Linked DNA regions of Homo sapiens: regions 2 and 3 are each linked to region 1. Evidence: fine-mapped expression QTL. A gene starts in region 1. Each other region holds a variant in brackets. All regions are shown on one strand. Distances are from middle to middle.

Region 1 (10,500 bases):
TTTCCTGTGCCAGGCCACAGCCCAGCCTCCTGTCACAGGCTACAGGTGAGGACGAAGACCCACCTCTCCCCAGCCCCAAGAGTGAGCTTGGGAAGGGCTGGGACCTGAGTAGGTGTGCCAGAGAGGCCAGGACAACGTTAACAGCGCCACCATTTCCTCAGGTGGGCAAAAGGGGGCTCTCCGGTGCTCGGGGCCCGCGGGCCAAGGTTAGAGGTCGTGGCAGACGCCTCGTTCCTGACTGAGCCCGTGTCCTGCGAGGTCAGCAACGCCGTGGGTAGCGCCAACCGCAGTACTGCGCTGGATGTGCTGTGTGAGCTGGGGCCGGCCTGTGGGTGTGGTCAAAGGTGGCCGTGGCTTTCAGGGCTGTTGAGGGTCGGGGCCTGGAGGGGCGGGGCCGGGAGAGCGAGCGTGGGGTATTAGGAGGAGGAGAGTGTGGAGCTGGGGCATATTCTTGCGCCCTAGAGGGTGTGGTGTTTCTGTGGGGCTGGCTGATCCCAGGTCAGTGGCTGCATTCCGCCCCGGCCATGTGACCCCTAGTCTCTTTCGTCCAGTTGGGCCGATTCTGCAGGCAAAGCCGGAGCCCGTGTCCGTGGACGTGGGGGAAGACGCTTCCTTCAGCTGCGCCTGGCGCGGGAACCCGCTTCCACGGGTAACCTGGACCCGCCGCGGTGGCGCGCAGGTACAGCCCTAAATCTGAGGCGGTGGCTGGAGGGGGACCAGGCTTCCTTACAAATCCGGCTTCTGACGCCCCTTCCCTGTCGCAGGTGCTGGGCTCTGGAGCCACACTGCGTCTTCCGTCGGTGGGGCCCGAGGACGCAGGCGACTATGTGTGCAGAGCTGAGGCTGGGCTATCGGGCCTGCGGGGCGGCGCCGCGGAGGCTCGGCTGACTGTGAACGGTGAGAAGGCGGGGCTTCCTAGGGGACCTGGCCCGTCCTGGGATAGGGAGCGGACAGAGGGGGCAAGGGCTAATGCAGTGGGAGTGGCCTGGAAGGAGCTTTACACCCAGCGGGGGCTGGAGACCGGACCTATTGAAGGCGAGGCTTTTAGGAGAATCGGAGTTTGGAGGCGGCGTGGCCTGATTGATTGAGGTTAGCGGAGAGTGCGCTGGACAGACCCGGCTTTGTTACAGCCTTTGGGGAGGGCAAGACCTCTCCTCTGAGTGACCTACAGTCTCCATCCCAGCTCCCCCAGTAGTGACCGCCCTGCACTCTGCGCCTGCCTTCCTGAGGGGCCCTGCTCGCCTCCAGTGTCTGGTTTTCGCCTCTCCCGCCCCAGATGCCGTGGTAAGGAAATGTCACTCCTCCCGTGACCCATCCAGCCGTGATCCCTGACCTCCCACCTGGCCCCCCGAAACTACTGTGACCATTTCTGACTTCCCAGACATCCCTCCTGCTTCTTCCTCCCCTCCTCAGTCTCCTCCGTGTCCTCCCTCTTTTGTGCCCCCAGGTCTGGTCTTGGGATGAGGGCTTCCTGGAGGCGGGGTCGCAGGGCCGGTTCCTGGTGGAGACATTCCCTGCCCCAGAGAGCCGCGGGGGACTGGGTCCGGGCCTGATCTCTGTGCTACACATTTCGGGGACCCAGGAGTCTGACTTTAGCAGGAGCTTTAACTGCAGTGCCCGGAACCGGCTGGGCGAGGGAGGTGCCCAGGCCAGCCTGGGCCGTAGAGGTGAGACCCCAGCCCGAAGACCCCAAATCTGGAGAGTCTAAACCCCACAAACGCAGGGATCCCCCAGCCGAGGGCTGCAAAACCTCATACCCTCAAATGCAGAGGAGACCTCCAAACCTCGGGAGTCTCAAAACTGTGGGCTCATTGATTCCCAAGACACCCCTCAACCACAAATGCCTTCACATTCTGAATCCTAAACTGAGAGACTCCTCACACCTAGGGGCCCCAAAAAGGGAAACTCCAATGATTGCAAAGCAAATTGCAAAGTAAAGGACCCCTCAAATTCTAAGACTCCCTAAAGCCAGGGAGTTTAAACTCACTCTCAAACTTGGGGAACCCCAAATTCAAGGGCCTTTGAATCTTCAAATGTGCGACCTTTTGAACCCAGGAATCCCAAACTCAATCCCTGAGCCCCCGCTTCCTGGTTCCCCCTCAGCCTTCTCAGGATGTCCCCTCTGCTCCCTGCAGACTTGCTGCCCACTGTGCGGATAGTGGCCGGAGTGGCCGCTGCCACCACAACTCTCCTTATGGTCATCACTGGGGTGGCCCTCTGCTGCTGGCGCCACAGCAAGGGTTAGTGCCTGAGCCCCGCCCCGGCTCCCGAGGCCCCAGCCCCACACGCGCCCTGCCTGCCCAGTGACCTGACCTGGCCTTGGGCCTTGGCTCCAGTCCCATTTCCAGCTCTGCACAGGGCTTAGCTCTCCTTCACGTTCTGGTTCCCTCCTTAAGCCCTAACTAGGCCTTCCCAGGGTCACACTCCTCGGTGGGAATGATTCTTATTGGTTTCCAACAGCCCTACCCAATCAGCCTCATTGGTTCCCAGTCCTCTCTCTTCCCGCTTATTGGTCTGCACACATTGTGACCCCGCCCATCGCTTAACTCCACCGGTCGCTGTTTGTCAGCCTCAGCCTCTTTCTCCGAGCAAAAGAACCTGATGCGAATCCCTGGCAGCAGCGACGGCTCCAGTTCACGAGGTCCTGAAGAAGAGGAGACAGGCAGCCGCGAGGACCGGGTAGGATGCCAGGGTCCCCAGACCTGACTGTGCCTCCAGACCTAAATAATAGCCCAGTCCCAAGAGGGTCCCCAAATTCAAATAGGACTCTAAGGCCAGGCATGGTGCCTGACGTTGGTAATACCACTTTGGGAGGTGGAGACACAAGGATCACTTAAGGCCAGGAATTCAAAGCCAGCCTGGACAGCATAGCAGGACCCCATCTCTACAAAAATACAAACTAAAATAAAATAAAAAATGAACCGGGTATGGTGGCATACACCTATAGTCCCAGCTACTCAGGACACTGAGGTGGGAGGATCCCTTGAGCACAGGAGGTAAAGGCTGCAGTGAGCTATGATTGCACCATGCACTCCAGCCTGGGCTACAGAGCAAGACCCTGTCTCCATTTTTTTTTTTTTTTTTTATGTAGGAGGGCTCTAGTCTTTTTTTTTTTGGCAGAATTTCACTCTGTCACCCAGGCTGGAGTACAGTGCTGCGATCTCGGCTCACTGCAACCTCTGCCTCCCTGGTTCAAGTGATTCTCTTGCCTCAGCCTCCTGAGTAGCTGCGATTACAGGCGCCCACCACCACGCCTGACTGATTTTGTATTTTTAGTAGAGATTGGGTTTCACCATGTTGGCCAGGCTGGTCTCAAACTCCTGACCTCAGGTGATCCACCCGCCTCGACCTCCCAAAGTGCTAGGATTACAGGCATGAGCCTCCACGCCCGGCCTGAGGGCTCAAGTCTTTTTTTTTCTTTCTTTCTTTTTTTTGAGACGGAGTCTTGGTCTGTAGCCCAGGCTGGAGTGCAGTGGCGCGAACTCGACTCACTGCAAGCTCCACCTCCCGGGTTCACACCATTCTCCTGCCTCAGCCTCCAGAGTAGCTGGGACTACAGGCACCCGCCACCATGTCCAGCTAATTTTTTTGTATTTTTAGTAGAGACGAGGTGTATACCGTGTTAGCCAGGATGGTCTGGATCTCCTGACCTCGTGATCCGCTCGTCTCGGCCTCCCAAAGTGCTGGGATTACAGGCGTGAGCCACCGCGCCCGGCCAAGGGCTCTAGTCTTAACAGTGACCCCACACCCAAATGTCACCCAAGTCCATGCCCCTGACCCAATTATTCCCTAGGCCCAGTATGTCCCCACAGCCCGTTTTTGTTGTTGTTGTTGTTGTTGTTGTTGTTTTTGAGATAGAGTCTTGCTCTGTCGTCCAAGCTGGAATGCAGTGGTGCAATCCAGACTCACTGCACCCTCCACCTCCCAGTTCAAGTGATTCTCGTTCCTTAGCCTCCTGAGTAGCTGAAATTACAGGTGCCTGCCACCATGCCTGCCTATTTTTTGCATTTTTAGTAGAGACAGAGTTTCGGCATGTTAGCCAGGCTGGTCTCAAACTTCTGGCCTCAAGTGATACTCCTGCTGCGGCCTCCCAAAGTGCTGGGATTACATGCATGAGCCACTGTGCTGGCTTCTTACAGCCCTTTTATTGTCCTGAGTGCAGTCCCCAGCTCTTGGGTGCTCTTACTCCCTCCTGCCTGGCCTCCACTGGCTGGCTGAAGGTCCTTGGGGTCTGGCATTGGGGCGGGGGGATCCTCTGACTATTCCCTCTCACTAAGTTCCCTACCCCAGGGCCCCATTGTGCACACTGACCACAGTGATCTGGTTCTGGAGGAGGAAGGGACTCTGGAGACCAAGGTGAGTGTTGAGAGGGGTGGGGCTCCCTTCACTGTTGGGAGAGGCGGGGCTCCCTTCATTGTGTTTCCGTCTCTCTCCCACGCCTGTCCCCTCCTTTTTCCTTCTGTTGTCCTCAGAGTTGGGACTCAGCTCCCCACCCCACTCCTCCTGCCCCCTGGGCCATCTCACTCAGCTCCCAGCCTCAGTTTGCCTGTCTGCAGACTCTTCCCACACATCTGTCCCAGCCCTAGCCTCCATCTGGAGCCCCAGACCAGGGCTCACCCTGCCTGTGCTCTCCTCATCACGGTCAAGCCCCCTTTCAGCCACCAGGTCCTACACTGGCCCCACATCTCCCCAGACTGGTTCTTCCTCTGGGGTCCTACCTCAGGACAGCCACATTGACTCCAGGCCATCCCCAGGCCAGAGCACTTCTCTCTCTCTCTCTCTCCTGCGTACCTAGCACATGCCATTCTCTCTCTTCTTTTTTTTTTTTTTTTTTTTGAGACGGAGTCTCATTCTGTTGCCCAGGCTGGAGTGCAGTGGTGCAATCTCAGCTCACTGCAACCTCTGCCTCCTGGGTTCAAGCCATTCTCCTGCCTCAGGCTCCCTAATAGCTGGCTAATTTTTCTTGTATTTTTAGTAGAGATGGAGTTTCACCATGTTGGCCAGGCTGATCTGGAACTCCTGACCTCAAGTGATCCGCTCGCCCCAGCCTCCCAAAGTGCTGGGATTACAGGCGTGAGCCACTGTGCCCAGCCGACATGCCATTCTCTTGGCCTGAAACACTCCTACCTTCCTTCCCATGTCTACCTAATTCCTTCCTTTAGTCCTCCAGTCTCAGCTCAGACATTTCTTGTTCTAGGAAGCCCATGCTTCCGTCATGACAGCTCGATCATTTTGCCTGTGTTCCACCCATCACAGCCATGACCACTCTGATCTGGGCTTCCTTATCCCACCCACTATGCTGAGGGCTCTACCATCACAGCCCCTGTCATTGCCTATGCCTTTCCCAGGCACAGCCCTGACCCCTCTGGGTACTGTCTCATGATCTGTCATTTTTCCTTTGGTGTGGGATTCTGTGAGGACAGGGTCCAGTTCTATCCTAGTGACATGCCTTGTAGCAGCAACACAGGGTGTGACACTGAATCAAAGCCTAGAGGCTGTTGGGCAGGTGAGTGTCTCTCTCCTGTTCCCTCTGCACCTTCCACACCGACACCCCTCAGCAGGCCTATATCCCTCCGTCTCTACCTTTCTCTGCCTATGTCCTATCCATTTGCCTCTTATCACTGTTCCTCTGTCTCACTTTCTCTCTCTCCCAGTCCATGTGTGTCTCTGTGTCTCTGCCCACTCCTGTCTCTTTTTGTCTCTCTCAAGGTCTGGTCTATTTCAGTGTGTCTCTCCATCAGTGACCCTCATCCCCCCTGCACGCTCACAGACTTTACTGAGTCCCATTTGTCCCCTCAGGACCCAACCAACGGTTACTACAAGGTCCGAGGAGTCAGTGTGAGCCTGAGCCTTGGCGAAGCCCCTGGAGGAGGTCTCTTCCTGCCACCACCCTCCCCCCTTGGGCCCCCAGGGACCCCTACCTTCTATGACTTCAACCCACACCTGGGCATGGTCCCCCCCTGCAGACTTTACAGAGCCAGGGCAGGCTATCTCACCACACCCCACCCTCGAGCTTTCACCAGCTACATCAAACCCACATCCTTTGGGCCCCCAGATCTGGCCCCCGGGACTCCCCCCTTCCCATATGCTGCCTTCCCCACACCTAGCCACCCGCGTCTCCAGACTCACGTGTGACATCTTTCCAATGGAAGAGTCCTGGGATCTCCAACTTGCCATAATGGATTGTTCTGATTTCTGAGGAGCCAGGACAAGTTGGCGACCTTACTCCTCCAAAACTGAACACAAGGGGAGGGAAAGATCATTACATTTGTCAGGAGCATTTGTATACAGTCAGCTCAGCCAAAGGAGATGCCCCAAGTGGGAGCAACATGGCCACCCAATATGCCCACCTATTCCCCGGTGTAAAAGAGATTCAAGATGGCAGGTAGGCCCTTTGAGGAGAGATGGGGACAGGGCAGTGGGTGTTGGGAGTTTGGGGCCGGGATGGAAGTTGTTTCTAGCCACTGAAAGAAGATATTTCAAGATGACCATCTGCATTGAGAGGAAAGGTAGCATAGGATAGATGAAGATGAAGAGCATACCAGGCCCCACCCTGGCTCTCCCTGAGGGGAACTTTGCTCGGCCAATGGAAATGCAGCCAAGATGGCCATATACTCCCTAGGAACCCAAGATGGCCACCATCTTGATTTTACTTTCCTTAAAGACTCAGAAAGACTTGGACCCAAGGAGTGGGGATACAGTGAGAATTACCACTGTTGGGGCAAAATATTGGGATAAAAATATTTATGTTTAATAATAAAAAAAAGTCAAAGAGGCAAGTGTGTCTTAGGGAGTCTACTGGCATTATCACTCTCCACCAAGGAAGGGGTCCCTTAGACCTGTCCCAAGGTCCCTCCTCTACCCTAGCCTATGAGGTGGCTGTAGGAGTAAAACTGTGAGCCACCTCTCAGCCTCTTGCTACCTGCAAAGCACTCTAGGCTCTTTTTTTTTTTTTCTTGAGACAAGATCTGGCTCTATGGCCCACATTGGAGTGCAGTGGCATGATCTCAGCCCACTGCTACCTCTGCATCCTGGGCTCAAGCCATCCTTCCACCTCAGCCTCCCAAGTAGCTGGGACTACAGGTGCATGCCACCACACCCAGCTAATTTTTGTATTTGTTTGTAGACAGGGTTTCACCATGTTGGCCAGGCTGGTCTCAAACTCCTGACCTCAAGTGATCCGCCCACCTAGGCCTCCCAATGTGCTGGGATTACAGGCATGAGCCACTGTGCCCAGCCATGGGCTCTTTTAATATACATCTTCACACACACACACACACACACACACACGCACACACACACATGAGTTGCAAACAGAAAAGACACACACATAGGCATGTATGCACAGACACACGCATAGATGTCCACACAGTTGCACACAAGTGACAGGGCTGCCCCAGGGGTCCTGGGGAAGACTGAATTCTAACTCTCATTAGAGGAGACAAACAAGTGAGCCCTGAAGTGGAGCAGGGAAGGGGAGACTATGGGTAGGAAAATGGCAATCCCCTGGTCCTTACAGCAAGCGTGGAGATCCAGACCCTAATCCTGAGGTGCTGCATCCACAGTGGGCATGGTGCTGGTGCCTGCTTGGATGATCCTTAAAGAAAGGTCCTGGGGGCTTTGGTTCATGGATCCTTGAGCTAGGAGTTAAAGGTCCAGGCCCCTGGGACCCTTGGGAAGCAGAGCAAGAAGAGTGAACTCCTGGGTCTGAAGGAGAATGGGCTGGGGGCTTGGTCTCTGGTCCTGAGAGAGAAGGTGCCCAGACTTCTGGATCTGAAAGAGGAAGGGACTAGGTCTCAACTGCTGCCTTCTTGACTGGGGACATTTTGGAGGCCTGTATTCCTGAGCCCTCAACAGAGGAATGTACTAGGGGATGGGGGTCTCTGATGCTTGCATCCTTGGAAAAGGACAAAACTGTGAGTGTCTGGGTCTAAAGAGGGTGAGAGTCCTGCGGGAGGACTCAAAATCCACAACGGGCGGAGCCCATAGCCGGACTCCTGGCTGGGCCCTTCATGGGGCGGGACGCCTGGAATCTCGAGGGGCGGGGGCCTGGCGCAGGCTCCCGCCCGGGGTTCCCGAGCTGCTCCACTCTGCGCGAAGCCGCCACGCTATTGTCCTGACCAGGAAGGCGGGGCCGGCGCGGGGCGGGGCTGGCGGCGCCGGCGCAGCCCGGGGGCGGCGGGAGGAGGAGGTGGCGGCGGTGGCGCTGGGAGCTCCTGTCACCGCTGGGGCCGGGCCGGGCGGGAGTGCAGGGGACGTGAGGGCGCAAGGGCCGGGACATGGGGCCCGCCAGCCCCGCTGCTCGCGGTCTAAGTCGCCGCCCGGGCCAGCCGCCGCTGCCGCTGCTGCTGCCACTATTGCTGCTGCTTCTGCGCGCGCAGCCCGCCATCGGGAGCCTGGCCGGTGGGAGCCCCGGCGCGGCCGAGGTGAGGCCGGGCCGGGTCCTGGGGGATGGGGGAAGGGGCGGGACCGGGTCTCTGGACGCCGGCGCGGACATGTCCAGGGCAGAAAGCGCGGTCTTTCCAGCCAGGTGGTCAGCCCCCAGGCGCCCCCAATCACATTTATGAACCCAGGGTTCCAGGCCCCAGCTCCCCCATCATGCGACGTCCCAGCCCCCTCCCATCTCGAGCATAGGAACTGGTCTATTCAGAGCCCCTGGTCCCAGAAGTCCAGCCCCCTCTCCAGACCCAGGTGACTCGGCCCCAACCCCCTCCCGCCTGGACATAGGACCCACCAAGCAGCGAGGCATTTAGATCCAATAATCCAGACCCCTTGTATTCTCTGGACCCATATGGAGGCCCTTGCAGCCTCCCAGGACCCAGGAGTCCAGTCCTTCAGTCACCACCCACCCCAACCAGATGTAGCTCTCCAGTCCTCAAGGACCTGGTGTCCAGGACTGTAGGCCCCTGAAGCCAGGCCTTGTCAGCTTTGCATCCTGCAACGGGAGCCTGAGCAAGGGATGGAGGGAGGAGGGGCCAGAACTCCTGGGTTCTGGCCTCCTCCTCCGCGATTCAGGTTTAACCCCTTCGGGCTCCAGAGCGGCTGCGCTGGGGTGGGGGCGGAGTCTGTCTCCGCGGCAACAAGGCAGAAAGAATCCCGGGGGACCCAGGTCGCCATAGCAACGGGAGCGCTGGGGCGCCCCCGCCCTACGGGAGCTGTTTCCCAGGGAACGGTGCCTCCATGGAGGCGGTGTGCGGTGCTTGGGGGAGGGGGCTGGTGCTGGGGGTCTCGGTCCTAGGGAGCAAAGAACCAGGGGACCCTCATGCCAACGCCCCCCGAGCCCTCACTGTCCTTTCCACTTCCATCCAGGCCCCGGGGTCGGCCCAGGTGGCTGGACTATGCGGGCGCCTAACCCTTCACCGGGACCTGCGCACCGGCCGCTGGGAACCAGACCCACAGCGCTCTCGACGCTGTCTCCGGGACCCGCAGCGCGTGCTGGAGTACTGCAGACAGGTGGGCGGGGCCGAACGGGAGAGGCGGGGCCGCCCATAGAAAGCTAGACTTGAAAAAGGCGTGGTCCAGGGTGCTGCGCGATCTAAGGCGTGGAGGCTGGGGGGCGTGGCCAATAAAGAGGCGCAACTATGCTAGGGGCAGGGGACCTGTTTTGAGATACTAAGTCAGGAAAAGGGGAGAGCCGCGAGATAGCCAGAGAGGAAGTGGAATTTAGGAATCTGGTGGTCTTTGTAAAGAGTAGAGGTGTAGGGGGGAGTGGCGAAAGGATAGGCGGGGCTAAGACAGAAAGAGACCTTAAGGACCAGCAAGATGGGGAAAGGGGTGGAGCCCAATGAGAGCGCGGAGAGCTGGGGGGGCGTGGCCATGAAAAGACAAATTTATAACGGGAAGGGAGAGTTTTGGAGAGGCGGAATAGAGGAAAAGGCGGGGCCTAAAGGAGGGTGAGACCTTTGGGGAGACGAATCTGACTGCGGGGAGGGGTGACCAGAGAGGTGGGCTTAGAGGGACCTTCAGAAAGAAACAGCACAGGAAAAGAGATAGGGCTTAAAGATGACGGGACTTTTAAGGGAAAACTGCTAGTGGGCGTGGCCAATGAGCACAAGGAGCTTGGATATCTAAGGCTGGTGCTAGGGAGAAGCAGGGCCTAGGGAAGCGATGTCCTCATGAATACTAGAGCCTTGAAAACGGACCTGGCCGGGCGCGGTGGCTCACGCCTGTAATCGCAGCACTTGGGGAGGCCGAGGCAGGCGGATCACCTGAGGTCAGAAGTTCGAGACCAGCCTGGCCAACACGGCGAAACTCCGTCTCTACTAAAAATACAAAAATTAGCCTGGCATGGTGGTGCGTGCCTGTAATCCCAGCTACTCAGGAGGCTGAGACAGGAGAATCGCTTGAACCTGGGAGGAGGAGGTTGCAGTGAGCCGAGATTGTACCATTCCACTCCAGCCTGGGCGACAAGAGCAAATCTCCGTCTCAAAGAAAGAAAGAAAGAGGGAGAAAGAAAGAGAAAAGGGACCTGACTACTGGAGAGGGGTGGCTGGCAGGGGC
Region 2 (10,500 bases), 270 kb before region 1:
TTCAGAGGAATTTTAAACCAAAAAACTGGAATGGAATGTTCTGGTTTCCTGTGGTGTGTGTGTATGTGTGTGTGTCAACATGCCCATGATTGTTTTCTGGGTCAGTGGTCAGTATCTGTGTTTCCCTGGAGCTGTTTCCTAGACTGTGAAAATCAGAATGTCCCAATGGGGAAGCCCACAGACATAGAATTCAGGCAGATGTCAGTTAAAAACTTACCTCTGACACTGAAAAACTGTATAGCCCTGAACAGATACTTTTCTTGAGCATAGTTCCTTTGTCTCTAAAGCAGGCATAATTGCCAATGTGGGGATGATATTTAGAAATCTGAACTGATGTTTATTCTCTAGGGGTCTTCTCATTTGAGCTGGGATTGGAGATGTCTAGTGTCTCAGAGCAGCAATAAGAAAACAGAAACCTCTTCCAGCTTCTGACATCCAAATGTCAAGCTCTTAGGAGAAGAATGGAAAGTCCTCAAGAAATGCAAATAGCTTTGGCAGAATAGCTGATGAAGACCACCTCTCCCCCCTCCAGAAAGGCATTGGTTCCCCATTCATGGAAAAGGGAATGTAGAGAGAGATTAGACAATAGTACATCCATAAGGTTCCTGGAATCTGCATCTGAGGAAGAGGGGCGTCAGAGACCCCAGCTGTTATCTATAATCCCTCCTCACAGATAAGGCCTAGAGAGGCTCCAAGTTCTCAAAGAAGATATGCTACATGGTGTAGACATTTACAAAGAAATGACCTCAGACAGCCAAGGAGGATACCCCATGGCCCAGCCTAGTGAGAAGAAGGTGGGTTCCATAGGAATCCCAAGTGCCAGGTGGAGACAGAACTGTAGAGGAAAACTAGGGATAAGCAGGGAGCCATCGTGCATGAATCAAAACAGAGATCTAGACTGACACCATGGGCCACAGACACCCCGGGGCTGCCTCTGATGCCCAAGCTTCATGGACAACCCCAAGTTCAGAACCAGATGAATATTTAGCACAATATTTAGCAGAACTAAGTTTCCACCACCATGGAGAATGGGGATTCTCAGTAGAAAGTCAATGGAGCTGCTGGGCAAGAGACTGCTCACTGTCCCCCAGAGCCCATCGCCTCTTTGTTCTGGGAACATTGCCTGGCCACGTCTCAGAGGTTCCCCTCTGCAGCCATGAAATGTGCTTTGGTCCTGTGGAATGTGAGCAGAACTGACATGTACCACAAACAAACCTGGCTTTTCAATGTCTCCTGGGACACTCCTCTAAACTCCTCCTCCCCCGGCCAACGGGGCAAGGGATACCCATGTGATGATTTAGAAGGCCACATGTTGTAGACGTGGCAAAGCCCCCATTAGCCTGGGTCCCTGAACCATTCTAGGAACAGCCTCCCTTCCCCCAACTGCCTCATGTGGTCAAGCAGAAAATAGACTACCATGTTGACAAATGACATGCTTGGCCTGTTTCCACAGCCCAATCCACCCAAACCAGTGCAGATGCAGGAGAATAGAGTTCTATTTCTTGCACATCTGGGATTACAGCTTCAAGTTCATACCCAACAGAGACATCCATCTTGTTGGGTGGTCTATAGGAAATAATAATAGAAGGAAACAACAAAGGCCCTAGTCCACCTTAATTGTAATTGTTGTGATGCTGAGTTTGTCTCCTCTGTGGGCTTGGGTGTCTGGGCAGATCTCATGTGTTTGTGGGACAATGCTCTGGGTTATGGGGATGCCTGCAGATAGGATGATGCCTAATTGTCTGTCATGTTAGCAGATCTAGAGGGTTAGCCATCCCTGTCCCTCTCCAGATCCAGCCCAGGCTGGGCCTGTCACATTCAGCTGCAAAGCCATGTCAGGTTAGGATGGTCCATGTCAACATCAGCAGGCAGACCCAAGTGTCACCTTCTGCTACAGGCCTTGGAAAGCCAGCCAGCCTCCTCCACTTCAGCTCCCAGACTTCATCCAACCTGAATTTCACTCTCGGGTATCCAACTGGTATTTAGCACCAGGTAAACACAAAACGAGGCCAGGCACAGTGGCTCGTGCCTGTAATTTCAATGCTTTGGGAGGCTGAGAGAGGAGGATGGCTTGAGCCCAGGACTTTGAGACCAGCCTAGGCAGCAAGTCGATAGATAACTCTTTTCTACAAAATTTTTCAAAATTAGCCAGGCGTGGTGGCACACGCCTGTAGTCTCAGTTACTCAGGAGGGTGAGGTGAGAGGATCACTTTAGCCCAGGATTTTGAGGCTGCAGTAAGTCATAGTGATACTACTGCACTTCAGCCTGGGGGACACAGCTAGACTTTGTCTCCAAAATAAATAAATGTAAAAAATAAGGCCGGGTGCAGTGGCTCACACCTGTAATCCTAGCACTTTGGGAGACTGAGGTGGGAGGATCACCTGAGGCCAGGAGTTCGAGACCAGCCTGGCCAACATAGTGAAACCCTGTCTCTATAAAAATACAAAAATTAGCCACTGTGGTGGTGCGTGCCTGTAATCCCAGCTACTCGGGAGGCTGAGGCAGGATAATCTCTTGAACCCGGGGGTGGAGGTTGCAGTGAGCAGAGATTGCACCACTTCACTCCAGCCTGGGCGAAGGAGTGAGACTCAACCTCAAAAAAAAAAAAATCTTATCTGACTTTGATTGCATTACAATCAATTTAGTTATCAGTTTTGGGAGATTTAGCATCTTTATGATAAGCCTTCCTATTCATAAATATGATATATCAAATAGGACTTGTACATCTTTAGCTTTATTTTATGTATTATAAGCAATCCTTTTTTCCATTACATAATCTAAATTATTATTGGGGTAGAAGAAAGGTATTGAGTTTCCAATGTTGATATCTTGTGTGGCAAACTTACTGAACTTTCTTGGTGTAATAATTCATCATTTTACACACTTACATTGTCTATGCTAAATTTGAATTATTTCTTAACAATTTTAATACCTCATTATATATGTATTTTTTTAGTTCCTGGGCTAAACCTTTCAGCAAAATATGAATTAGCATCATAATCTTGTTTCCATCCTTGTATGGGTTAGTTCTATTGTTTTACTATTAAGTCAGGCAGTTGATGTAGATTTCTGATAAAAATTTCATCTTTTTTTTTTTTTTTTCTGAAGCAAACTCTGGCTCTGTCACCCAGGTTGGAGTGCAGCGGCACAATCTCAGCTCACTGCAATCTCCGCCTCCCAGGTTCAAGCGATTCTAGTGCCTCAGCCTCTATAGTAGCTGGGACCACAGGCACGCACCACCACTCGGGGCTAATTTTTTGTATTTTTAGTAGAGATGGGATTTCTCTATGTTGGCCAGGCTGGTCTTGAACCCCTGGCCTTAAATTATCTGCCTGCCTCAGCCTCTCAAAGTGGTGAAATTACATGCATGAGCCACCGTGACCAGCCAAAATTTCATCAATTTTGTTATGTTTTCTTCTATTCCTGGCTTGCCAAGATTTTTTAAATTAGAATTTTATATTGAGGCTAGGCACAGTGGCTCATGCCTGTAATTCCAGTACTTTGGGAGGCCAAGGAAGGAGAGTCATTTGAGGCCAGGAATTTGAGACCAGCCTGGGCAACATAGCTAGATCTCGTCTCTACTGAAAAAAGAAAAAAAAATTAGCTAGGCATGGTACCTGTATTCTCAGCTACTCAGGAGGCTGAGATGGGAGGATAACTTGAACCCAGGAGTTAGAGGCAGCAGTGAGCCATGATCACACCCTTGTACTCCAGCCTGGGCAACACAGCGAGACCCTGTCTCAAAAAAAATTTGTGTTGAATCATATTAAATACTTTTCAGCATCTATTAACATGATCATACGAGATTTTAATTCAATCCTTTAACAAAGTTATTCACAATGAACCATTCTTATACTCTTGGGAAAACCTTACTGGGTCACAATCTATTATTCTTTTTTTTTTTTTTTAGAGACAGAGTCTTGCTCTGTCGCCCAGACTGGAGTGCAGTGGCACGATCTTGGCTCACTGTAAGCTCCGCCTCCCAGGTTCACGCCATTCTCCTGCCTCAGCCTCCCGAGTAGCTGGGACTACAGGCGCCCACCACCACACCCGGCTAATTTTTTGTATTTTTAGCAGAGACGGGGTTTCATCGTGTTAGCCAGATGGTCTTGATCTCCTGACCTCGTGATCCGCCCGCCTCAGCCTCCCAAAGTGCTGGGATTATAGGCGTGAGCCACCATGCCCGGCCTCTATTATTCTTTTAATATGTGATGGATATGGTTTGCTTATGCCTTATTTGGGTCCTACATAGTTTTCATCTGGGGGCTGTTCTCAGTCCTTTGCATTGGGGCAGTGCTGGCAATGCAGAATGGGTTGAGAAGCATTCAATGTGTTTCTGTGTTCTGGAAACATTTCTATGTCATGGGAATTAGCTGCTTCTTAAAGATTGGAGTGGGCCGGACATGGTGCCTCATGCCTGTAATCCTAGTACTTTGGGAGGCTGAGGCGGGTGGATCACCTGAGGTCAGGAGTTCGAGACCAGCCTGGCCAATATGGTGAAACCCCCATCTCTACTAATAATACAAAAATTAGCTGGGCATGGTGGCACACAACTGTAATCCCAGCTGCTCGGGAGGCTGAGGCAGGAGAATCACTTGAACCCGGGAAGCGGAGGTTGCAGTAAGCCAAGATCACGCCATTGCACTGCAGCCTGGGTGACAAGAGCGAAACTCCATCTCCAAAAAAAAAAAAAAAAGTTGGAGTGAACATGCCTGCAAAATCTTCTGGGCCTGTAATCTTTTTCGTGTAGCAGATTTTGAGTACTTTGTCTTCACTATGATGGTGAAAGCAGCAACTCTCGGAGTCAAGTACAAGCCACTGTTATGAGCAGCTTCGGAGTATTGATTCTTTTGGTCTCCACACTAACCCTATAGCCTGCATTCTTACAGACTGAGGATAAAGCACAGGGAGCTGGAAAGACACAGTGCAGGTCTCACAGCGAATTCACTGAGGGGCCAGGATTGGGAACCAGGAAATCTGCCACCAAAAGCCGTGTTCTTAAGCACTAGGTGGACAACACTGCCTCCCATCGACCGTTAGTAGCAATTCAATCTTTTTACCTGCTGGAGTCACTTGTTAATCACTTACCTTTCTCTTAACAAATCATTTTTATTTTCGACATAGAAGCTAACTTGAAGGAGCGCCCACTGGCCCAGAGTGGTACAACTTAAACATCAAAAATATTAATAACGGCCAGGCGCGGTGGCTCACTCCTGTAATCCCAGGACTTTGGGAGGCTGAGGCAGGTAAATCAATTGAGGTCAGGAGTTCGAGACCAGCCCGGCCAACATGGTGAAACCTCGTCTCTACTAAAAATATAAAAATTAGCCAGCCGTGGTGACAGTCACCTGTAATCCCAGCTACTCGGGAGGCTGATGCAGGAGAATCGCTTAGAGCTCGGGAGTCGGAGGTTGTAGTGAGCCGAGATGGCGCCATTGCACTCCAGCCTGGGCAACAAGAGCAAAACTCCGTCTCAAATAATAATAATAATAATAATAGTAATAACAATAATAGATTTAAACACACCAAATATATA[T/C]CATATTTAATGATGAAGGATGGAATACTTTCCCTATAAGATCAACAACAAGGAAAGGATGTCTGCTCTTGACACTCCTATTTGACATAGTGCTGGAAGTTCTAGTCACTGCAAGAAAAAAACGCAAACAGGGCCCGGCGCAGTGGCTGACGTCTGTAATCCTAACACTTTGGGAGGCAGGAGGATCACTTGAGACTAGGATGTCAAGACCAGCCTAGGCAACACAGCATGACCCCATCTCTACAAAAAATATTAAAAAATTAGCCAAGCATGGTGGCACATGCCTGTAGTCCTACCTGCTCAGGGGGCTGAGGCAGGGAGATCACTTGAGCCCAGGACTTTGAGACTGCAGTGAGCTATGATCACACCAACACTGCACTCCAGCCTGAGGAATAGAGTGAGACTCTGTCTCAAAAAAGAAAAAAAGGCATTTAGATTGGAAAGGAAGAAATAAAACTGTATCTGCAGGTGACATGAGATATGTGTGTGTGTGTGTGTCTGTGTGTGTAGTTGATGCAAAAATAATTGCGGTTTTTGCCATTGAAAGGAATGACTGCTGGGCATGGTGGCTCACGCCTGTAATCCCAGCACTTTGGGAGGGTTTTTTTTTTTTTTTTTTTTTTTGAGATGGAGTCTCACTCTGTCACCCAAGCTGGAGTGCAGTGGTGTGGTCTCGGCTCACTGCCAGCTCCGCCTCCCGGGTTCACGCCATTCTCCTGTCTCAGCCTCCCGAGTAGCCGGGACTACAGGCACCCGCCACCACGCCCAGCTAAATTTTTGTATTTTTAGTAGAGACGGGGTTTCACCTTGTTAGCCAGGATGGGCTCGATCTCCTGACCTCGGGATCTGCCCTCCTCAACCTCCCAAAGTGCTGGGATTACAGGCATGAGCCACCGTGCCTGGCGTTTTTCTTTTCGTTTTTTTTTTTTCTTTTTTTTTTTTTTTTGGAGATAGAGTCTCACTCTGTCACCCAGGCTGGAGTGCAGTGGTGTGATCTTGGCTCACTGCAACTTCCACCTCCTGGGTTCAAGCGATTCTCCTGCCTCAGTCTCCCTAGTAGCTGGGATTACAGGCGCCCACCACCATGCCCAGCTAATTTTTGTATTTTTAGTAGAGACGGGGTCTCACCATGTTGGCCAGGCTGGTCTTGAACTCCTGACCTTAGGTGATCCACCTACCTCAGCCTCTCAAAGTGCTGGGATTACAGGCGTGAGCCACAGCCCTGGACGGATGTATTTTCAATACATGTCTTTATAATGCATGTGAAAGCTAACGCATACATGGGAGACAATGAAGGGACCAATATGGTGGAAGTTTTCCATATTCCACTTGAAGTTGCAAAATATTCAATCTAGGTAGACTATAGAATGTTTAAGTGTGTTTACCATAATCCGTAGAGCAATCACTTAAAACTTGCAAAGATATATAGTGAAAATCACAATAAATAAATTAAAATGGAGTACTAAAATAGTATTTGAATAATCCAAAAGAAAGAAGGAAAAGGGAAAACAAGGAACAAAACACAGAAAAGTGGAAATAAAAAACAAATAATAGTAGACCTAAAGCAAAACATACCAATAATCATATTTAAGGCACATGATCTAAACACACAAGTTATAAAATATTTTCATAATGCACTTAAAAAAAAAATAGCCAGAGCCGGGCGCGTTGGCTCACACCTGTAATCCCAGCACTTTGGGAGGCCAAGGCAGGCAGATCACGAGGTCAGGAGACCATCGTGGCCAACAAGGTGAAACCCTGTCTCTACTAAAAATACAAAAATTAGCTGGGCGTGGTGGCGGATGCCTGCAATCCCAGCTACTAGGGAGGCTGAGGCAGGAGAATCGCTTGAACCAGGGAGTCAGAGGTTGCAGTGAGCCGAGATCGCACCACTGCACTCCAGCCTGGCGACAGAGGGAGACTCCATCTCAAAAAAAAAAAATAGCCAGGTTCAAAGGCTCATGCCTGTAATATCAGCACTTCGGGAAGCCGAGGTGGGTGGATCACTTGAGCCCAGGAGTTTGAGATCAGCCTGGAAAACATGGTGAAACTCCGTCTCTACTAAAAATACAAAGAAGTTAGCTGGGTGTGGTGGCACACGCCTATAGTCCCAGCTACTTGGGAGACTGAGGCAGGAGGATAACCTGAGCCCAGGAAGTCGAGGCTGCAGTGAGCCATCATCACATCACTGCACTCCAGCCTGGGTGACAGAGTGAGGCCCTGTCTCAAATAAATACATACATAAATAACTTGAGCCCAGGAGTTCAAGATCAGCCTGGGCAACATAGTGAGACCCCATCTCTGCAAAAAATTTCAAAATTAACCTGGCATGGTGGCTTGCACCTGTAGCCCCAGCTACTCAGAAGTTTGGGGCAGGAGGTTGTTTGAGCCCAGGAGGTCAAGGCTGCAGTGAGCCGTGTTCACACCACTACACTCCAGACTAGCAACAGAACAAAACCTTGTCTTAAAAAAAATAGAAGTAGGCCAGGCGCGGTGGCTCACTCCTGCAATCCCAGCATTTTGGGAGGCCAAGATGGGCTGATCACCTGAGGTCAGGAGTTCGAGACCAGCCTCACTAACATGGTGAAACCCAGTCTCTACTAAGCATACAAAAATTAGCCAGGCATAGTGGCAGGTGCCTGTAATCCCAGCTACTTGGGAGGCTGAGGCAGGAGAATCACTTGAATGCAGGAGGCGGAGGTTGCAGTGAGCCGAGATCACGCCATTGCACTCCAGCCTGAACAACAGAGTGAGACTCTGTCTCAAAAAATAAAAAAATTAAAAACTTAAAAAATAGAAGTAGGCCGGGCGTAATGCCTGTAATCCTAGAACTTTAGGAGGCCAAGGCAGGCGGATCACTTAAGGTCAGGCGTTCGAGACCAGCCTAGTCAACATGGCAGAACCCCGTCTCTACTAAAAATACAAAAAATTAGCCAGGCATGGTGGTGCGCACCTGTAGTCCCAGCTACTCAGGTGGCTGAGGCAGGAGAATCACTTGAACCCAGGAGGCGGAGGTTGCAGTGAGCCAAGATCACATCACCACACTCCAGCCTGGAAGACAGAGCAAGAAGAAAGAAGGAAAAGAAAGAAGAGAAGGAAAAGGAAGAAAAGAGGGAAGGGAAGGGAAAGGGAAAGGGAAAGGGGAAGGGGAAGGGAAGGGGAAAGGGAAAGGGAGGGGAGGGGAAGGGAAGGGGGAAAGAATGAAGGAAAGAAAGGAAAGGAAAGGAAGGAAGAAAAGAAATGATTGTTTGCTTGGTGTTGGAGGGGCTTGAGGGGGTGGGGAAAAAGGGGGGAACCCACACATTTGATCAAAGAACTCTTCTGTGTTGACTGTTGTGGTATGAGAGCAGAGAAAATGCATTGTGTTTTTCCTGAAACACAAGACTCCGAGGCCTACATCACTCTTGCCCCAAGTAGTGCTTTTCTCTCAAGATGCTCAGGAGGAATCTTTAAACAAAGATGATCAAGGAAATGAGGCTTATTTATAGGTCTGTTTTGAAGGTGGAACCAGGGATTCCTCAATTGGCCAATCACTTGAGAGAGTAGAAGGAGCTGTCACCCCATCAAACCAATCAGAAGCCAGGTGTTGGTTCCCACCCTATGACATACCACCTCCAATTGGCCAGTAGAAGTAGAGAGACAGGCTAGGAGGCGGGGCCTGCCTGGCCGCCATGGTAATCCCCTGTGGTTGGTGATCAAGGAAGAGCATAGTGCCAGACCTAGGTGCCCTCCTGGGAATGTTCCAGGAGGGCAGGAGTAGGAGGAGGAGTGTTAGAGTAGAGGGGAAATGATGAGAGCAGAAAGGGTATCATAAAGGAACCTCAGGGGTGATATAAGTGGACACAGACATATGTCACAAGGGCACGGGTTTAGAACAGGAAGGCTGTTGTACGTGGTTGGAGAGGGAGTTCAAAGAGTCAGAAAGCTGGTTTCAGAAGTTGAGAGGTGTTAGAGGGAGACAGGGCAGGACTTTGTAAGGTGACAAAGAAGTAGAGACTGAAACCCTGTCTCTACTACAAATACAAAAATTAGCCGGGCGTGGTGGCGGGCGCCTATAGTCCCAGCAAGAGGAGTGAATAGGTGGTCAAATAAGGTCTTAGAGGAGCTAAAGGGGCAGGGAGCTTATGGGCGAACAGGAAAGGTTTACAGCAGGACCCCGCAGGATTCATAGGGACGAAGTAAAGGATATTATAAAAGGAACAGTGAGAGAGCTAACAGAAGTTTTACTTTGGGGGGCAGAGGTGGGAGGATCACCTGAGCCCAGGAATTCAAGACCAGCATGGGCAACATTGTAGCAAAACCCCATCTCTACCAAAAGAAAAAAATTTTTTTTTTTTTTTTTTTTTTTTGAGAGAGTCTCGCTGTGTCACCCAGGCTGGAGTGCAGTGGCAGGATCTTGGCTCACTTCAACCTCCACCTCCCGAGTTCTGCCTCAGCCTCCCAAGTAGCTGGGATTACAGGTGCGTGCCACCACGCCCGGCTAATTTTTGTATTTTTAGTAGAGACGGGGTTTCACTATGTTAGCCAAGGTGGCCTCAAACTCCTGACCTCAGGTGATCCGCCCACCTCGGCCTCCCAAAGTATTGGGATTACAGGCGTCAGCCACCACACCCAGCAAAACAAAAACAAAACAAAACAAAATTTTAGTTAGCTGGGCCTGGTGGTGTGCACCTGTAGTCCCAGCCACTCAGGAAGCTGAGGCAGGAGGATCACTTGAGCCCAGGAGTTTGAGGCTGCACTGAGCTATGATTGTGCCTTTGCACTCCTACAGCCTGGGAGAGAAGACCCTGTCTCTGAAAAAAAAAAAAAAAAAAAAAAAAAAACAGAAGACAAAGAAGTTTTACAGGGTGAGAGTTTTATAAGGGAACAGTGAATTTATAATGAAGGTTTTATACCCAAACACAGGTCCAGTCACTCCACGCTTGCAGAGTCCAATTAACAAGAGCAAGTTCTGGTAGAAAGA
Region 3 (5,000 bases), 17 kb before region 1:
TCGCAGGCAGCCCTGCCGCTTCCACCAACCCCCAACCCCCCTACCCTGCCCACTGGGTTGGTGCCGCCAGCCCAAACAAAGCCTTTTTCTGATAAGGAGAAGCACTCTCATCAGCACCACCCCCCTAGGGCAAAGCAGTGGGGAGTGGAACTGAGTGACCCCCTCCCTGGAGTCTCTCCCGCCTCCCCGAGTCCCTGTGCATGGCAGTTTTGGGGATCTGAATCCGCCTTCTGTCCCACACCCAACTCCTGCTCTGCCTCTGCAGCCACCTGCAGGCTCTCAGCGCACTCCTCAAAATCTATTTCTGCTGTGTTTACCCAACACCACCTGCAGGAAACTCCCTTGAAATTCCCAGGCCTTTCCCAGAGTTCCTCAGTTCCTTTTCTTAAAATTCCTGCTGTCCCCAAAGATTTCCTTTGAAATTTTCCTTAATTCCAGTGTCTTTCCATAGATTACTTCCTTTTTTTATTATTGCTGCTGCACAAATTAAACTTTCCATAGATTTCTGAATCTTTCCCGATATTATAATATCTTATGATCCCAGTCTTTTAACAGATTCCTTTGTATTGCCCAGATTCTCAGCACTTCCCCAGAATTCCATCCAATTAAAATAAAATTCCATTGTCATTTCTATAATTTCTAGTCTTCCCCCCAAAGTTTTCAACTAGCTCCCTAATTCCCAGGATTCTCCTAGAATTCTATTAGGCTTCTCTTTCATTTTAATGAAATTTCATTTTCTTGCCTCCAAATCCCAAGAGTTCAGTTTAATACTAATGAATTTCCGATAGTCTGTGGAATTACTAGCTTTTCTCCAAATTTTCTTTTCTTTTCTTTTCTTTTTTTTTGAGACGGAGTCTCCCTCTGTCACCCAGGCTGGAGTGCAGTGGCACGATCTCGGCTCACTGCAAGCTCCGCCTCCCGGGTTCACGCCATTCTCCTGCCTCAGCCTCCCGAGTAGCTGGGACTACAGGCACCTGCCACCACGCCTGGCTAATTTTTTGTATTTTTAGTAGAGACGGAGTTTCACCGTGTTAGCCAGGATGGTCTCGATCTCCTCACCTCGTGATCCGCCCGCCTCAGCCTCCCAAAGTGCTGGGATTACAGGCGTGAGCCACTGTGCCCAGCCTTTTTTTTTTTTTTTTTTTTTTTTTTTGAGACGGAGTTTCGGTCTCGTTGCCCAGACTGGAGTGCAGTGGCACAACCTCGGCTCACCACAACCTGGGCCTCCCGGATTCAAGCAATTCTCCAGCCTCAGCCTCTCCAGTAGCTGGGATTACAGGCCCCCGCCACCATGCCCAGCTAATTTTTTGTATTTTTAGTAGAGACAGGGTTTCTCCATGTTGGTCAGGCTGGTCTCTAACTCCCGACTTCAGGTGATCCGTCTACCTCGGCCTCCTAAAGTGCTTGGATTACAGGCGTGAGCCACTGTGCCCAGCCAAATTTTACAGCATTGTTTTTTTTTTTTTTCTGGGATTCAAGTCTTTCCCTAAAATTCCTGACATTTCACCTGAATTCTGAGGGTTTTCACTAGAATTTTCTTTAATTTTAATGAAATTACCTTTTCTCTAGAATGCCTAATCTTGATTCAGAATTCCAATTTTTATCCTAAAATTCTCACTGTTTCCCCAGAATTTTCCTAGGATTCCATTTAATTCTCATAGCATTTGTGTCTTTCCTGATTCCCTGCCAAACCTCAGAATCTTTAGTACTTTTCAAGAAATTTAATCTTTTTCCAAGATTGCCCAAGATTCTGAAGGAGAGAAGGGGCCTGGTCCTTCCCCCACATTCCTGGCCACCCCCATAGCCCTGGCGTGGCACCAACCTTGTACCACATGAGGGAGGGCTCTGGGTTGCCCCCGATAGCCAAACACACCAGCCTCACCCGGGTCCCAGCCCGGAGCTTCTGGCCCTCTGGGGGACCCTCAATCCACAGTTTCTGGGCGGGATCTGGCGGGGAGAGGAAGGAAGAATGACTTTTTCTCTGTGCTGGGTCCTGAGGCTTGGGGGCATTGCTGGGCCAGGGCAGGGGCTCACATTTTACGTTCAGGATGAGCGACTTCTTGAAGGTCTCCTTGGTGAAGGCTTCACTGAAGGCCTCACATGTGAGGGTCAGACCGTTGTCCTCCCGCCGCGCCAGGAATGTCAGGTTGGACATGGAGATGTGACCGCCATGCAGTCCCTGGCAGGGAGTGAGCTTCAGACGTGGGGACTGCAGCACCCCTATCCATCGTGCTAGAGGCCTGAGTCCATCCCAGTCCCCAGCA[G/A]GGACACAGGAGACATCTCTACCTCCCCCTCTGTTGGACCCATGGTCCTCAAGGAGAAAGCCCCCCAGGCTGCTGGACCCACCCCTTCCCTATCCACGAGTCATGCCCTCAGCCCCCTCCATGCTCAGACCCAGGAGCCTGGCCCCCGCCTCACATCCATGACTGTCTCCTCCATGGGCAGCAGCTGCCGCCAGCCCAGCCACCATCGTAGCAGAACCCGCGGGCGACTGGACTTGCTGACACAGGAGAGTGTCACGTTCTTGTTCTCAGTCTGGGATGCAGATCCCAAGATAATAATGGCACTAGGGGGAACTGCAGGGACAGAGAAGGAAGACACTAAGCTGGGCTGGATTTCTCACAGACCAGCCCAGACAGAACAGGACTGGAGACAGATGCTGAGATCTTTGGCATCCAGTAGGCATAATTTGGGGGCACACACAGATGGTTCTCTGAGGCACAGACCGACAGGGGGGCAGCTGGCACCAGGACTCACAGGTGACCTGCAGTGTGATGCCGTGCTCCTGGGTCCCTGCAGACACGCTGTTGTGGGCCTCGCAGCTGAGCTGCGCTCCATGGTCTTCTGGCCTCACGGTCATCACCAGCACACTGCGGGCCACCGCCTGGGTGTGCTCTGTGCCCCACGCTGTGGACACCGGCTGGCCATTCTGGAGACAGGGACAGGCCTGGGCCAGCTCAGGACTGGCTCCCAGACCCCACTGTCCCCCCATTCCCCATGCCCGCGTTTGCCCTCACCTTCAGCCACTGCAGTGTGGCTAAGGGATTACCCCCTCGGGCCACGCACGGCAGCTCCAAGCTCTGTCCTGCCCGCACGTGCCCCTCATCCAGGCCTGGCCACTCGATGACAGGGGGTCCTGGAGGGACTGGGGGATATCAGTCACTCAGTGGGCCTGGAGTAGCCCATCCACTCTTTCCAGGCCCCACAACCTGCCTTTGAACCCCCATGTTTCTCTGAGTGCCTGAATTTCCATAATCCCTGTGATCCCCCCACACCCCCCAGTGCCTGCTCCCCATCCTCAGCGCCCTAGTTGGCCCAGTTCTCCACTTACACAGAACATTCACGGTGAATGAGGCCTTGATGGGGGCCTCCAGTGCTGGGCTAGACGCCTCACAGACCAGCAACTGCCTATTATCTGAGCTCCGGGGTGTCACCCTGGGATGAGAAGTCAGGGTTATAGAGTCAGAGTCATCATCTGAAATTTGGGGAGTCAGGGAGAAGAGGTGGGGATGTCACCTCTGGTCCCCACACCTGGTCTAAGTCCCCATGCTGATCTCCTCTGGGATCCAGGGTTCCATGGGAGAGATTTTGGGGGTGAACAGTGAGAATTGGAGCCTAGAGAGCCCCACATCTGACCAAAACTTTAGTGCTTGGGACTCTAGAACTGAGGTTCCCATGAAGTTTTTTTGTTTGTTTATTTGTTTGTTTGTCTTTTGAGACAGAATCTGGCTCTATCACCCAGGCTGGAGTGCAGTGGTACAATCTCAGCTCACTGCAACCTCCACTTCTTGGGTTCAAGTGATTCTCCTGCCTCAGCCCCCTGAGGAGCTGGGAGTACAGGCATGCGCCACCACACCCGGCTAATTTTTGTATTTTTAGTGAAAACAGGGTTTCACCATGTTGACCCAGCTGATCTTGAACTCCTGACCTCAGGTGATCCGCCCACCTCAGCCTCCCAAAGTGCTGGGATTACAGGCATGAGCCACCACCTCTGTTCCCCATGAAGAAGCTTTGAGAGTCAGGATGAAGAATTGGGTCCCAGATGTTCATACCTAGCCCAAGCTTCATGCTTGCATCCCTGGGGTCTGGGGTTCCCATGGGGAAAATTAGGGGTCAAGGTTGGGGGGTTGTTTCAGTTTCCACACCTGGCTGTGGCCTCCACAGTGAAGAGTTTCTGCTGGGAGCCCTCGTTCACGTTTGCAGAGATGTCAGATATTGTCTGTCCACCTTGGGGCAGCAAGAGGGCTAGAGGGGTTCCAGGCTCCCCGCAAGATAGATTCTGGGGAGCATGGCCTGGAAGTCCTCAGGGTGGGTGCGATGCCCCCTCCCTCCTCGTTCTAGAGGAAAAGGGCCTGGGGCAGAGCTGCATCCCCTCCCGACTTTCTGGACTGCCTGAATGCCGCAGTCTTCAGTGCTGGGTCCTGGGCCTCCCCGCTCTTCTCAACTCCTTGCTGGGTTGTACCATGCACCCTATCCCTCAGCTTCTCATGTCTGCACCAGCGCTACTGCCCATATTTCTATCTGGGCCTCAGCCTTGTGCTGGTTGCTGCCGCCCTCGATGTGCCCTCGCATCCACTGGGTCCCACACTGGCCTCAGCATCTCCCCACACCTTCTCCTGGGTCCCCATCCCAGGGATGACATCTTTTCTGGGGCCCTTAGAAGGGTACTGGTCAGGAACACACACCCTTCCCACTCCAGAGGCTTCATGCTGCCCCCTGCCACCCAGTTCACCCACACTCACTCAGGAGAATGGTGATGTCAGGTGCTGGCTTCGCGTCCCCAGACACACAGTTGACCACGTACTCCTGCCCAGCTACCCAGGTGACCATGGTGCCTGCCTCTGGGGTCAGCAGGAGCAGCTTGGGAGGAACTGGTGAGAGAAGGGTCTGGGGTAAGCTTCCAGCACTGAGAAGGACTTGAAGATTGGAGTTCGGTACCCAGAGTCTGGGAGAGGAGAGGCTGGGGGCTTGGACTTCCGGGTTGCGGGGTAGGGGAGGGC

Which allele goes with the higher level. Positions count from the first base shown, and alleles are read on the strand shown. Sizes are in standard deviations (SD) of each study's normalised expression. Not every link is listed here.
With allele C in place of T in region 2, the expression in sensory neurons of the gene that starts at base 8,217 in region 1 is higher (moderate effect, 0.63 SD a copy in Schwartzentruber 2018).

What was found. PIP is the estimated chance that this variant, and not a neighbour inherited with it, causes the effect.
Region 2: its variant is the best candidate, but not a certain one, in a credible set for the expression of APLP1 in sensory neurons (Schwartzentruber 2018, PIP 0.68).
Region 3: its variant is the best candidate, but not a certain one, in a credible set for the expression of APLP1 in esophagus muscle (GTEx, PIP 0.66).

The regions. Positions count from the first base shown.
Region 1 is chr19:35,860,358-35,870,857 of GRCh38, forward strand. APLP1 (amyloid beta precursor like protein 1) reads left to right here and starts at 8,217. Exons shown (of 17, transcript NM_001024807.3): 1 at 8,217-8,426; 2 at 9,310-9,453. The coding sequence starts at 8,280. KIRREL2 (kirre like nephrin family adhesion molecule 2) reads left to right here. Exons shown (of 15, transcript NM_199180.4): 6 at 1-45; 7 at 162-310; 8 at 552-679; 9 at 765-897; 10 at 1,184-1,284; 11 at 1,448-1,667; 12 at 2,136-2,240; 13 at 2,570-2,679; 14 at 4,291-4,356; 15 at 5,800-6,779. The coding sequence ends at 6,135. It overlaps LOC107985317 (a long non-coding RNA gene), which reads right to left and starts at 9,000. Exons shown (of 4, transcript XR_001753932.2): 1 at 8,735-9,000; 2 at 7,518-7,773; 3 at 6,130-6,236; 4 at 2,558-2,644. RefSeq lists an enhancer at 531-1,283 and silencers at 8,038-8,297, 8,388-8,457.
Region 2 is chr19:35,587,434-35,597,933 of GRCh38, forward strand. It overlaps LINC01766 (long intergenic non-protein coding RNA 1766), which reads left to right and starts at 10,462. Exons shown (of 3, transcript NR_110750.1): 1 at 10,462-10,500. RefSeq lists an enhancer at 9,219-9,358. The variant T/C (reference allele first, on the strand shown) is at 5,538.
Region 3 is chr19:35,846,219-35,851,218 of GRCh38, forward strand. It overlaps NPHS1 (NPHS1 adhesion molecule, nephrin), which reads right to left. Exons shown (of 29, transcript NM_004646.4): 4 at 4,743-4,871; 5 at 4,146-4,227; 6 at 3,332-3,435; 7 at 3,018-3,145; 8 at 2,758-2,929; 9 at 2,419-2,576; 10 at 2,035-2,179; 11 at 1,823-1,947. Among named protein-coding and RNA genes, the nearest start is that of NPHS1, 3.8 kb to the right of the region's middle. RefSeq lists a silencer at 1,892-2,067 and an enhancer at 4,932-5,000. The variant G/A (reference allele first, on the strand shown) is at 2,265.